Regions from separate parts of the Homo sapiens genome. Here region 2 is linked to region 1. The links come from fine-mapping of genetic effects on gene expression. A gene starts in region 1. The other region holds a variant in brackets. All regions are shown on one strand. Distances are from middle to middle. Region 1 holds the start of POGLUT3 (protein O-glucosyltransferase 3). Region 2 overlaps ATM (ATM serine/threonine kinase).

Evidence for each region. PIP is the estimated chance that this variant, and not a neighbour inherited with it, causes the effect.
Region 2: its variant is fine-mapped to the expression of POGLUT3 in whole blood (TOPMed, PIP 0.98).

The regions. Positions count from the first base shown.
Region 1 is chr11:108,496,923-108,499,838 of GRCh38, reverse strand. It overlaps POGLUT3 (protein O-glucosyltransferase 3), which reads left to right and starts at 1,455. Exons shown (of 8, transcript NM_153705.5): 1 at 1,455-1,674. The coding sequence starts at 1,473. It overlaps LOC112267909 (a long non-coding RNA gene), which reads right to left and starts at 778. Exons shown (of 3, transcript XR_007062880.1): 1 at 189-778. RefSeq lists a silencer at 1,303-1,822.
Region 2 is chr11:108,237,956-108,240,871 of GRCh38, reverse strand. The region is part of intron 5 of ATM (ATM serine/threonine kinase); the gene reads right to left. Among named protein-coding and RNA genes, the nearest start is that of ATM, 16 kb to the right of the region's middle. The variant T/C (reference allele first, on the strand shown) is at 1,481.

The DNA of each region.
Region 1 (2,916 bases):
TTAAGTTCCCCCAAGAGGGTGCAGAAATCCTGTGTCCATTCTGGGGTGTGAGTTCCTTCTGGATCATTCAGCCAGAGGAGAATCTTTATTGGCTTTAAATAAATTCAGATCTATTAACAATCCATTAACAAATTTGTATCCATTAACAAATTGGATAAAATGATCAAAAAAGAGAGGCAGATAGTAACCTTGACAATCTCTTCCTGGATCCAGCGTTCATCTTCTGAGGAGTGGTGGAGGTGGCTGAGACCAACCACGCACCACCACCCCTTCTCCCACTTCGATTACAGAGGCTTTGAGGTAAAGCTCGCACAAGGGCTCAAGGCAAGGCCTGGTCTTCTGCCACCCCAGTGCCCAGCTCCTCACTCTGGGCTTGGCCCAAACTCCGTGGATGTTCTGTAAACACCTGCTGGAAGAAGAGGAGTGCGGGAGGAAGCGGGGAAAGGGATGTGTGGGGTGGGGGGATCACGGTTCTGTGAGGGAGGCTGCTAAGCAGAAAAGCAACAAAACCGGCCACAAGAGAACGGTGCTGCTGTGAACAGAGGGCTGTGAGGGAGGGCGGGGGGCGTGACCTTGGCGCTCATCTTGTAAACTCGGAGACATTCCTTGGGAAAAGATATTTCCCTAAACTACATCGATCTTGGGGCCGGACCCTTTCATCGTCCCACAACAATCACCACCGGGTCTACGTCCTTTAAAAACACCTGAGCGGCGGACCCGGTGGCTCATGCCTGTAATCCCGGCACTTTGGGAAGCCGAGGCGGGCGGATTGCTTGAAACCAGGAGTTCAAGACCACCTTGGGCAACATAGGGAGACCCCGTCTCTACAAATAGTAATAGTAATAATAATAATAATAATAATAATAATAATAATAATAATAAATTAAATTAGCCAGCGTGGTGTCGTGTGCCTACAGTCAGTCCCAGCTACTCGGGAGGCTGAGGCGGGAGGATCTCCTGAGCCCACGAGTTCCAGGCTGCAGTGAGCTGTGGTCGCGCCATTGCACTCCAGCCTAGGCGACAGAGCCAGCCCCCTTGTCTGTATAAAAACAGAGAAAGAAAAGAGAAGAAAGAAGGAAAGGAAGGAAGAAAAAGAAAGGGAAAGACCACTGGAAGTGGAGGCCAGGCGTGCCTGAAGCCTTGGCAATCAACAGCCAGCGCACACTCGCAGCCTCGGTCTCTGGGCGGGCCTCTCCACCCCTTTCCTCCACGGGGCCTATGGGGCTGCGGGGAGGAAGGGGCGCACCCATCGTCGACCCCTACAGGGCGCGCAGTGGGTGATTGCGGCACTGGCTCGCGTTCCCGCCCGAGGGAGACGAGGCGGGACAGCGGGCGGGAAAGGGAGCCTGCGCCGCAATCTTTCCCGCCCGAAAGACCCGCCCCGCGGTGGGCCCCAGTCCCCGCCCGGTCCGCGGCGCTGCCGGCCCCTCCTCGCCGCCGCGGAGCTGGACCGCAGTTGTGCCCCGCCGACCATGCGCCGCCTCCCGCGGGCCCTGCTGCTGCAGCTGCGCCTCGCCCTGCTGGTGGCCGCGGGGGCCCCGGAGGTGCTGGTCAGCGCGCCGCGGAGCCTGGTGTGGGGGCCCGGGCTGCAGGCGGCCGTCGTCCTGCCGGTCCGCTATTTCTACCTGCAGGCGGTCAACTCGGAGGGCCAGAACCTCACTCGCTCTCCCGCAGGTAGTGTCCAGCCGCCGGCCTCCCTCGTCCCGCGGCCGGGTCCCCGCGCGTCCCCGCCGCCCGGGAGTCCGCCCGCGGCCTGCGTGGCGTCCCTCCCCGGCGTGTGTCGCCCCTTTTTGGGTCTGGTCAGCTCCTCTTCCCTCCTCCCGCCCATACTCAAAGCGGGCAAAAATCACCACGAAAGTTTGTGGAATGAATGAATGAATGAACTTGAAGGGCCCTTCCGCATTTAATGTGCAGGGACTGATGTTGCGAATGGACGGCGCCCGGGCGTTACAAGGAGTGTGCCGTGAGTCACACGTTGCCTTCCATCTCGGACTTAGTTGTCTGAACTGTGAGGGATTGCAGGGAGCGCTTTCCAGTGGTGAGTCATCAAGCCGACGGATCGCGTCGGATTACATGGCTTAGGCCTGGTGGGTTTGGAGCAACGAAATCCTACGCAGAGGAAATGTCAGAGCCGTAGGAAGGAGGAGGGGTTTACGTGTTAGTTTTTTGTTTCCTTTTTAGTTCTGAGTTTTTGAAAGCAGATTACAGGAACTAGGGAAACTCAGTAGAAATCATTCGGTTTTCCCTCCACGGAGGGTGAGATGGATCTCGTCCTGAATCCCTTTCTGCCCGGTCCTCCTCCCACGTTGTCCTTCACGTCTTAACCTTTGCAACTTCTTAAAACTTGTCCTGCTGGTTTCACGCTGTTGTCAGTCAGGATTTGCTAATGTATAATTTGGGGCTCTGGCCAACTAGCACCTTGTTGTATCAGCGAAGAGACAATTAGAATAAACCAGTGCCTCTGCCCCTGCTAGTCCAGCTGGGAACATAGCTGCCAGAAGTGTGTCCCAACTTGGGAAAGGGGTAAGGGGGTCTTGACAGCTGGGCAAAGCAGAGAATTTAGGAACCAAACATAATTCACTTTTAGATTTAATGATTTTTAAAATTTCATTCATTCAAGAAATACTTCTTTGATGTCTACTTCTGTGTTTGGTAATTCTGCTGGGAATCTAAGGATGAAAAGACAATGCCTGACCATCAAGGAACTTACAGTCTGTTGGTCAAAGACATGCAAATAACTGATCACTGTACAAGATAATTGAAGGTATGTACAGAGTGCAGTGGCAACATTGAAGCACTGCCAGAGACTGGAGAAATCCAGGAAGATTTCAGGAGCAGAGACTTGAAGGATGAGAAGGTTTGCTGGGCAGGCATATAGAAGGACGCCATGGCATGTGCAGAAGCACAGAGGCGTAG
Region 2 (2,916 bases), 260 kb after region 1:
GTAGCTAATGTTACTTTAGTATTGAAGAAAGAAAAACATAAATTTTTAAATTTGGTACAGAATAAGAGTTTACAAATTCTACAGTAGTATATAGTATCCCAGGCCTTTACATTACCACACATTTACATACCCAGAGCAACTTCCAGTCCTGCAAGCTCCATTCATGGTTAAGTGCCCTAGACAGGTGTACCATGTTTTATCCTTTATACTATACTTTTACTGTACCTCCTCTATGTTTATATATGTTTAGAGACACAAATACTTGCCATTGTGTTACAGCTGCCTACAGTATTCAGTATAGTAACATGCTGCACAGGTTTGTAGTGCAGGAGCAGTAATACCATATAGCTTAGGTGCGTAGTGTTATACCATCTAAGTTTGTATAAATACACCCTATGACGTTCACGCAACAAAGAAATTGCCTAATGATGTATTTCTCAGAACATATCCACATTGTTAAGAGACGCACAACTGTATATGACATGCTGGAAAAGGCTAAACCATGGAGATAGCAAAAAGATCCATGGTTCCCACAGTTTACAAGAAGGAAGAGATGAAAAGGTGAAGCACAGAGGATTTTTCTGACAGTGAAAGTATTCTGTATGATTCTGTAATAGTGAAAAATTGTTACCATTCTCTCCCAGAGGAAAAAAAAATATGACCATCTCATTAGATACAGAAAAAGATCTTTAAAAATGTCAAAACACTTGTCAAAATCCATAGCATATGTACCACCAAAAGTGAACCTTGGACTCTGGATAATAATGATGTGTCCCAGCATAGGTTTACTGATGGTAACAAATGTACCACTGGTGCAAGATGTTGACAGTAGGGCATGCTGTGTGTGTCCAGTGGACTTTCCACTCCGTTTTGCTGTAAATTTAAAATTCCTCTAAAAGATAAAAGTCAATTTAAAAAAATGGAAACCACTAGGTTTGAGAAACTGAATAATTGACAGTGTAGCTTGAGCACAGAAATTAGAAGCGCTTTAGTTAAGTTAGACAGGTAGGAAGAAGCAAAATTATGCAGCACTTTCAAGGCCTAGAAGAGGAATCCTCATTTTCTATTAGTTGTGCTAGTGAGAATGTAGAGAAACTGGAACCCTTGTGGGCTGCTGGTGAGAATGTAAAATGGCGTAGCTCCTGTGTAAAACAGGATGTTGGTTCCTTAAAAAATTAAATATAGAATTACCACATGATCTAGCAATTCTACTTCTGGGTATATAATCAAAAGACTGAAAGCAGGAAACTCAGGAGATGTATACTCATGTTCACGGCAGCATTATTCACAATAATCAGAAGGTAGAAACAACCCATGTCCACCAATGGACGAATGAATTAACAAAATGTGGCATATACACAGAACAGAATAGTGTTCAGTTTTTAATAAGGGTGAAATTCTGACAAAAGCTGTAACACTGATGAGCCTCAAAGACATTTTGGTAAGTGTAATAAGCAGGTTGCAAAAGGACAAATACTTA[T/C]AGGAGTCCTCTACTTCAGGCTGCTATAACAAAGTATTATAGGTTAGGTGGCTTAGAAACCACAGAAATTTATTTCTCTCAATTTTGGAGGCTGAAAGCAGCTCAGGTGCCAGCATTGTGGGTTTCTGGTGAGGGCCCTCTTTGGGGCTGCAGACTACTGACTTTGAACTGTATCTTCACATGGCAGAAAGACAGCAAGTTAGCTCTCTGGCCTCTTTTCATAAGGGCATTAATCCCATCCATGAAGGCTGGACCCACAGGACCTAATTACCTCCTAAATCCCACACCTCCAAATACCATCCCTTTGGGAGTTAGATTTCAACATAATTGGTGGGACACAACATTCAATCCATAAAAATGAAGTACCCCAAATAGCCAAATTCATAGAGAGAGAAAGTAGAATGGTAGCTGCCAGGGGATAGGGGAGGGGAAAATGGTAAATCATTGTTTACTGAGTATAGAAAAAAAAGTTCTGGAGATGGATGGTGGAGATGATTACACAACAATATGAATGCACTTAATACTACACAACTGTACACTTAAAAAAGTTAAAATTATAAATGTTATATATATTTTACCACAATAAATCACACTGGAGGTCCTAGCCAATGTAATAAAGCACAAAAATAAAATAAAAGCCACATGGCTCAGAAAGAAAGAAAAAAAAATTACTGCTTACAGAAGACATGTTTGTCTACAAAGAAAATCCAAAAGAACATTCAAAGAAAGCTACTAGATTTAGTAAGTGATTTTAGCAAGGTCCCAAAATACAAGGTCACTATACAAAAATTAACTGGACTTCTGTATAATTTTTGTGCATTGAACAATTTGAAAATCAAAATGTTAAAAACAATGCAATTACAAACTACTGCAGTATAAATCTAACAAAACATATACAAAATCTTTATGTTTATACAATTATAAATAAATGTCAATTTGCAGCTGGGCATGTTGGCTCATGCCTATAATCCCAACACTTTGGGAGGTCAAGGGAAGGGTATCACTTGAGCCCAGGAGTTTGAGACCAGCCTAGGCAACACAGTGAGATCCTGTCTCTATTTTTTTTAATATATAAAATTAAAGAAAAAAAATTGTCAATTTACAACAAAAAATCTATATGCTGACAATTATAAAACACTAATGAAAGAAATCAAAAAAGACAAGTGGCCAGACGCGGTGGCTCAAGTCTATAAACCCAGCACTTTGGGAGGCTGAGGCAGGTGGATCACCTGAGGTCAGGAATTCGAGACCAGCCTGGCCAACATGAGGAAACCCTGTCTCTACTAAAAATACAAAAATTAGCTGGGTGTGGTGGCACATGCCTGTAATCCCAGCTACTCAGGAGGCTGAGGCAGGAGAATCGCTTGAACCTAGGAGGTGGAGGTTGCAGTGAGGTGAGATCGTGCCACTGCACTCCAGCCTGGGCAACAGAGGGA